2 linked regions of the Homo sapiens genome follow. The protein of the gene in region 1 purifies or fractionates together with the protein of each later gene. This does not show direct contact. Each region holds a gene or a part of one and is shown on either strand. Other genes may lie near its edges.

What was found.
Region 2: the proteins of MED13L (region 1) and CDK8 purify together in Homo sapiens (affinity purification with mass spectrometry; 8 studies listed by BioGRID and IntAct, with this or other methods). This does not show direct contact.

What each region holds. Positions count from the first base shown.
Region 1 is NC_000012.12:116,275,970-116,279,718, forward strand, and holds the start of MED13L (mediator of RNA polymerase II transcription subunit 13-like), read right to left. Parts: upstream 1,725-3,749; 5' UTR 1,163-1,724; coding exon 1,091-1,162; intron 724-1,090; exon of another isoform or gene 503-723; coding exon of another isoform or gene 461-502; intron 1-460. UniProt on the Homo sapiens protein: Component of the Mediator complex, a coactivator involved in the regulated transcription of nearly all RNA polymerase II-dependent genes.
Region 2 is NC_000013.11:26,256,980-26,260,728, forward strand, and holds part of CDK8 (cyclin-dependent kinase 8), read left to right. Parts: intron 1-3,749.

The DNA.
Region 1 (3,749 bases):
CTGCAATTATTAGCCTAAACGCCAGGTTTAACAACGTGAATGTTTTCAGAGGTAGGTAATACGACCCAATAAAAAGCAAAGATGGCATTTACCACCAAATGTCACTGACACCGCCAGGAAAAGAGTTGCTGGAGCCCTATACATTTTTAATTTCGATGAATCTAGACACCGTCGGCGGGTGCCAGGCTTCCACGAGAACAATTGACACCCTAACTGCTTCAAGATTAAGGCAGGCGATTCAAATCCGAAGGAAAAGTTGTCAATTATCAGAAAGAGAGAGCGCGAGAGAGGCGAAGGCAGATAAAAGCGATGTTATCAAACCGACCAGCTTGTTGCTTTTGTGTGTGTGTGTGTGTGTGTGTGTGTGTGTGTGTGTGTGTGTGCGGATTCGTTGTTAGGATAGAGAAAAACAGTTTTTAAAAGACACAGGAGGAGAGAAAGAAGAAAAAGCTTTCTCCACCTTCCGTCGGCTCGGTGCAATGGCTTTACGGCTCTCCAGCATAGTAAGCCCCGAGAGGCAGGCGGCTGTCGATGTTTACAATCGCGGGAGCTTCGGGTGCAAGAGTCCTTTCCTGACACAATCGCATTCAATCAACTATTTTAGGGCGAAATTGCAGGTGTCATTATGGAATTTAAAAAAATTCAAAAGGCAGGCGGGCGGGCAGGCAGCTGATCCAACAACGGGGGAAGAGGTTGCCGATCGGAGGCGCGGCAGCACAAGGCAAAGCCTTCCACATTTACGGGGGGAAAAAAAGGGGGGAAAGGGGAGGAGAAGGGGAGTGCGATTGCAACAGAGGGTGGGCGTTCGAAGTGCGACCCAGAATCCGCAGCTCCGAGACTTCCACATGCAAATTCCACGCCGAGCGCCGCGCTCACAAATGATTTTTAAAGAGCCAAATAAACACTGGATGGGATCCAAGGCGAGAGAGAGACGATCCAAAAGGGGGAGAATCGGCGAGAGGCGAACGGCGGGGAGACGCGAGGGAGGGGCGAAGTCCCGGCGGCGGGAGGAGAAAGTTGGTCGGCGGCGGAGGTCGGGGACCCCCCCCCTTCCCCGGCACAGCCCCCTCCCCGCAGCCCGGCTACTCACCAGCGAAAAGAGGTTGGAGTGACAATCCTCCAGGCTCGCCCCGTTCGCCACCCAGTTCGCTGCCGCAGTCATGATCCTCCGCGAGCCCGGCCGCCAGAGCGGGGCATGTCGGAGCGAGGCGTCCGAGGCGAGGCCGGGCCGGGCGGCGGCGCCTCGCCGGGGAGCGCGGGGCGGCCGGGCCGCCGCCGCCGCCGGGGGAGGGCGCGAGGGCCGGCGGGCAGGCGGGAGGCGCCGCGGCGACGCCGCGCCGGGGGCAGCGGGCCCGGGCTGGCGGGGGGGGCGCGCGCCCCGGGCCGGCGCTGCGGGCCGGCCACCGCCTCCGCCTTCCCTGCTCCTCAGCCGCCGCCGCCGCCGCTGCTGCCGCTGCCGCCGCCTTGTTTATCTCCAGCCACCGACTCCCCCTCGGCCCCCGCCGGCGCGCGAGGGGAGGCGAGCCCCGGAGCCGCCGCCGCCGCCTCGGAGCCGCCGCCGCCGCGGAGCGCGAACTCGCGAAGGGGGGGGTGCGGACGAAGCCAGCGGGCGACCCCGGCAGCCGAGCGACGTCCCCTCCTTCCTCTTCCTCCCCCACCCCCCCCTCCTCCCCAGTCAGCCTCGCTTCTCCTCCCTCCCCGGGCTCGCTTGCTCTGACAGCAATGGCGGCCGCCGACCGCGGCTCGGCCCGCCATTGGCTGGCGCTTGGTCACGTGACGGGCGCCGGCCGCGCGGGGGGAGCGAGGGGCGGGCGGGGGAGGGGTCCGGAGTGGCGGCGGCGGCGGCGGCTCGCGGGAGGCGCTGCTGAGCTGAGCGCGGCCGGGTCCTCCGGCCGGGAAGAGGGAGGGAGGGAGGCAGAGAGGGAGAGAAAGAAGTGCGGGCGGCCGGGCTCCCCGGCGGGCGGCGGACTGCCGGCCCGTGGCTGCCGTGGGCTGCCCCTCGTGGCCGCCCCGCCCCCTCGCGGTGCACTGATCGTGGCGGGGCGGGACCGTGGGTCCCGGGCGCGCCCGTGGTGGCCGCGGAGGAGGGCGCGGGACCCCCGGCCTGTGCCCTCGCAGCCCAGGCCGGCTGGCGTGGCGCGGCGGCCGCGATGTGGGCCAGGCAGCGGGTCCGAGTGCCCTGGGGAATGTGTCCTCAGAGGCTCGCGCCGCCGTCCGCCTTTTGCAGAGGAGAAAACTAAAGCACAAAGGGATTAAATCACTTGCCCGAGGTCGCACACTTGGGAAGAGGAGTCCAGATTCGAACCCGCGCACAGTGAAGCCAAGCTCTTGGACAAGGTTTCACAGGCTTCGCCCAGGGATATTCACGGCTGCCATAGACGGAGCGCTTACTGTGTTCCAGACACTGTGCGTTTAATACAGAAATGTTTATTGAGCCCTTACTCCTAGTTACTGTGTGCACTCATTCATTCATTCATTCATTCATTACATAAATGTTTCCTGAGCTCCTGCTGTGTGCCAGAATCTGTTATAACTTCCAGGCACTGTGCTAAGGCCGTGTTGGGAGCAGACCCTTCTTCCTGGCGTCATTCATTGGATAACCAACATTTCCTGAGTGTATATGGCCTGGGAGTCCGGAGGAGTGCTGCTATGAAGAGAAGCTCTCCCAGTCCTCAAGAAATGGATCCCCGAAAAGGGGGAGGAGAAAACAATGTCTTCACTAATACGCCTCCAAACATGGAACAATCAGCTGTTTCAGGTAGATTAAGCTAAAAGAGGAAGAGTGGATGGCTGGCACAGTGGCTCACGCCGGTAATCCTAGCCGAGGTTTAAGACCAGCCTGAGCAATGTAGCAAGAACCCCCGTCATGACAAAAAAAATAAAATACAAAAATACAAAAATTAGCCAGGCGTAGTGTGGCATGTGCCTGTAGCCCTAGCTACTCGAAAGGCTGAGGTGGGAGGATAACTTGAGCCCTGGAGGCAGAGGCTGCAGTGAGCCCAGTGAGCCGAGGTCGCATCACCGTACTCCAGCCTGAGTGACAGAGAGAGGCCCTGTCTCAAAAAAAAAAAAAAAAAAAAAAAGGAAGAGTAGAAAGCAGGGAAGAGATGAGAGTGTATAATAAGAGAAGTCTTAAGACACGTGAACTGAGTTTTGGAACTACCACAAATACTGCTAAAGCAAAACTCATGAGCAACATGTTATAATGTGTATTATCATGCAACATATTGTTACAATGAATGTCGTTACCTACATTATTTCACATAATCCGCAGAACAACCACCTAAAGTAGATACTGTTATTATTCTTAGGCTGTAATTAGGTAAAACTCAGAGGTGTGCAGTGACATCTCCAATCTCTCAGTTAGTACATGGCTCAAACTCAGGTCCTTCTGACTCCAGAGCCCGAGCATGAATTCAGGAGGCTCCTTAGAAAGATGCCTCTGGCTGGCTTTGCCATCCCTCTAATTGCATTATTTTGACCAACATAGTTTAACTCTTTGAGCCTCATTTCCTAATCTCAAAAATTGATCCTGATTGCTGACCCAATGACCTCAGGCCAATATTGAGAATTTCTATTAAGATACTGTTGATGAGCGGATGCAGTCGCTCACGCTTGTAATCCGTGCACTTTGGAAGGCCAAGGCGGGCAGACCAACTGAGGTGAGGAGCTCGAGACCAGCCTGGCCAACATGATGAAACCCTGTCTCTACTAAAAATACTAAAAATACAAAAATTAGCCGGGTGTGG
Region 2 (3,749 bases), on another chromosome or scaffold:
TCGCATAGTATTTATGAGGTTCTTTTGATCTTATGTCAGTGAAATGTAATTTAATGCATTTTAGTCCTGGTAAAATAAAATTTGTGGCTGTTTAATCTTTCATAATAAGATGATGATCAAATAATTTGTTTCTAGTATTGATTTACTTTCAAATTACATTATATATTCTGCAGCTGAGATTTGTTCTCTAGGAACTCAGACAGTAACACCTTTAAGGAGAACCTGAGATTTTCTATAAAAGGAAGTAACGCAAATAAGCTTGGTTTAGACATATTTGACTATTGAAATGAATGTATGTAAACGTTGTATCCTTTCAGTTGCCCAGTGAGCATAGAACATGAATAATTGGTAAAATAATTTAGACCAGAGAAGTTAGCTGCTTAAATTATTAAGTTTTAGGAAATAAAATAGCTTCAAAGATTCATTTCTTTGACTTACTTGAGGCATGATTGCATAGTAGGGAAAAGGGACCTTTTATAACTTTGTTAATTTCACATTATAATAGAGTTTAAAGAAATGCACAATAAATCTTGGGATTAATTTGTTCTCACTCGTGTCGCCGTAAATGAGATAGTGTCCTTTGTGTCTGAACACTTAAAGAGTACTCAGTGGGAAGCAGGGGGGTTCATTTTCTTTCTGAGTTGATTGTATCTCCTCTTTGCAGAGTTTAGGCAACCAAACTAATTTTGTTTTAAAGAGTAAGAGAGCGTTAGAAGACAGAAAACAATTTGTGTTTTTAAATTCTAGACTTCAATATTTGCACTGAATGTTTGGATAATTTAAAATATCAATTTGGGATAAGAGGTTTTTCTTCAAAAAAGAAAAACAAAAGGCATTTTCTTAGCAGGGTTTTTAATCTGTTATAATCTATGTTCCAAAGAATAGATAATTATGAGTGAGGAATGAGTGTGTGTTTGTGTGTGTGTGTGTGTGTGTGTGTGTGAGAGAGAGAGAGATACTGCCAACTTTCTTTGGGGCACATTTGTTGAGAGCCCAGAGATTAGTAAGTAGGCAGTGATAATGGCAATAATAGCTAAATTACTGAGTAATTAAGTTTCAGGTCCTGGGCAAAGCACTTTACATTCATCATCTAGTTAGTCCTCACAAGAAGTATATCAAGTCAATTCTGTTATTTTTCAGTTTTCCAGTTGAGGAAACTGAGGCTTAGAAAGGTTAAGCAAATTTACCCATGAGTACACAGCTAATTAAATGTCAGCTAAGATTAGAGGATTAGGCGCAGGTTTTTCACTCCAGAGCCCATGCTCTTAACCATTATGCTTCCTATAATTAATATATTGAATAAGTAAAAAAATAGTTATGGAGTTTGATTTCTAGTGGGTTATTCAAAAACATAAATACCTTGTAGAACTATTAATATTTGCTTCAATAAACTGGTGTACTTTCTGGGTATATTGCTGAAGCACCCTTTTTTTCAAGTGCTATAAAACTGTTTATGTAGATATATGGGTGTGTCTGTACGTATATACACAAACATACTTGTGTATCTAGAGGGGTGTGTGTGTGTGTGTGTGTGTAGGACTAAACTCTAATGAAAGCCATGTGGAAGCACTTCATCTAGTGGAAAGAACTCTAGATGAGCGATCCTGGAAACCTGAATTTGAATTCAGACTGTGCTTCTGATAGCAGTATGACCTTGGGCAAGTCATTTGCCCTTATAGCTCTTAGTAGGGGGGTTTCAGCATATAATTTTTAGGGTCTTTTCTAGTATTATGATTTGAGGAAGTAAAAATTATGAACATAAAATGTAATATTTTTTGCAAGATTAGGCAAACAACCACTAAAAAATTTTACTTTAGATGATGGTGCATTTCCATATTTTTTAGTCTCATGCTTTAACGTTGGTTCTCATCAACTGCCAAAAAGCTTGGTAACTCCCAAAGACCTATCAGTTACTTAACCCAACATGTCTTACGCTACCTTGCCATTCCTCTGTATTTATCTCTTAAGATATTGAGGATTTATGGACTAGTGCCTGTTCCCACTCCCTTGAACCATTCAGTTGGTGGGCAGCACAAAGGAACTCTTCTGATTCAACCTGCATTGGAGCATCCCATTACCTTTTTCCCCTTCTGAATATGGCTGAATGCTGTATCTAAGTTCATTTTGATTTAAATATTTCTTTAGATGTCAGAAATGCCAAATACAATATGTAATTTCTATCACTGGAATAGTCATGTATACAATAAAGAGTATTCCTTATAACCTTCTAAAAATGTGACAGAAGAGGACAGTTAGTCCCCTGTGTCTGCAGGTCCTGCATCTGTAGATTCAAGCAACTGTGGTTCAAAAATTTTCGAGGGGGTAGGGGGAAGGATAGTTGCATCTCTACTGAGCATGTACAGATTTTTTTTCTTGTCATTATTTCCTTAAAAAATAGAGTATAACAACTGTTTACATAGCATTTACATTTTATTAGGTATTATAAGTAATCTAGAGATGATTTAAAGTGTGTGGGAGGATATGCGTAGGTTATATGCAAATAGGACACCATTTTATATTAGAAACTTGAGCATCTGTGGATTTTGGGGGACGGTCCTGGAACGCACCCCTTGTGGATACTGAGGGATGACTGTATTTGCTGTGTACTTCTTATTTCCATGTGGTTGAAGTTACCTACCTTAGATATCAGTGCATTCAGATCCGCTATTTAGGCCACGTTGAGATTTCATGCTTAAATTTCATTTTTTTAGTAGCAATACTGGAAAATCAATTCATTTGGGATTTGTTCATGTGAGTTATTACTTTTACTGTGTCTTTGAACATTTGAAGAAGTCAATTACTCATTCATTCAACAAGTATTTATTGGACCCTTCTATGTGCCAAGCACTGTCCAAGGTATTGGGAATGCAAAGACGAATGAAGTATTCCATTATTTGGGGAGATAACTACTGGGGAAACAAACATGTAAATGTTGCAATTCAATAAGCACTATAATAATTAATGCAAGGTATATGGCAACACAGAGAAGGAAGTCCCCAACTGGTTAAGGTTTTTAGGAAAAGCTTCAAAGTTTACAGTATTTGATTTGGATCATAGAAGACAGGGAAGGTCTCATCAGAAAAGACATTCCAACAGGAATAGGACAAAGGGATTTTTTTTAAAATTGTATTTTCTGCAGACCCCAGCAAATTTTGTGGGTTTTAATTTTTCCTTGCCATGCCTTTCTTTTCCCCTTGTTTTCCCTGGCCAGCATTTTTTGAGTTCTTGCTGTACGTGTAGTAGTATATATATGCACTACAAATGTTCCATTGTACCCGTTGGACATGGTGAGGTACTCATTATTTAACAGTGGAGATAAATTTATCAGCGTTTGCACCGAACACCATAATTGTGTGTGTGTCAGTTTTCAATCATGAGAACATTGGCCATTCAAGAAAAGCAGCCTCTGAAATCCAGGGGTCTGATTTAAGACTCTCTCATGTGTAAAACTGCCATGGCAGAACTCTGTTTTGCCTGGGGCTCTGGTTGGCAAATGATTCTGCTTTGGCCTCACCTCCATGAGGTGTAAGGAGTCAGAATTTCATATGCTGCTGAGGTGATGGATGGTAACAAATTGGAAGGGGAAAGAAGTTCTTTTGCTACTTAGAGTTTAGGAAGTAATGGAATTTCTCTTGTTGGGGCTCTGATGTGTGGAAAGATGAAAGGTAGGGACAGGGCTTCTGGCATGCTGAATTTCAGCTAGGAAAACAGAAATAATGAAAAATTATAATTATTATAGGCCATTTGCA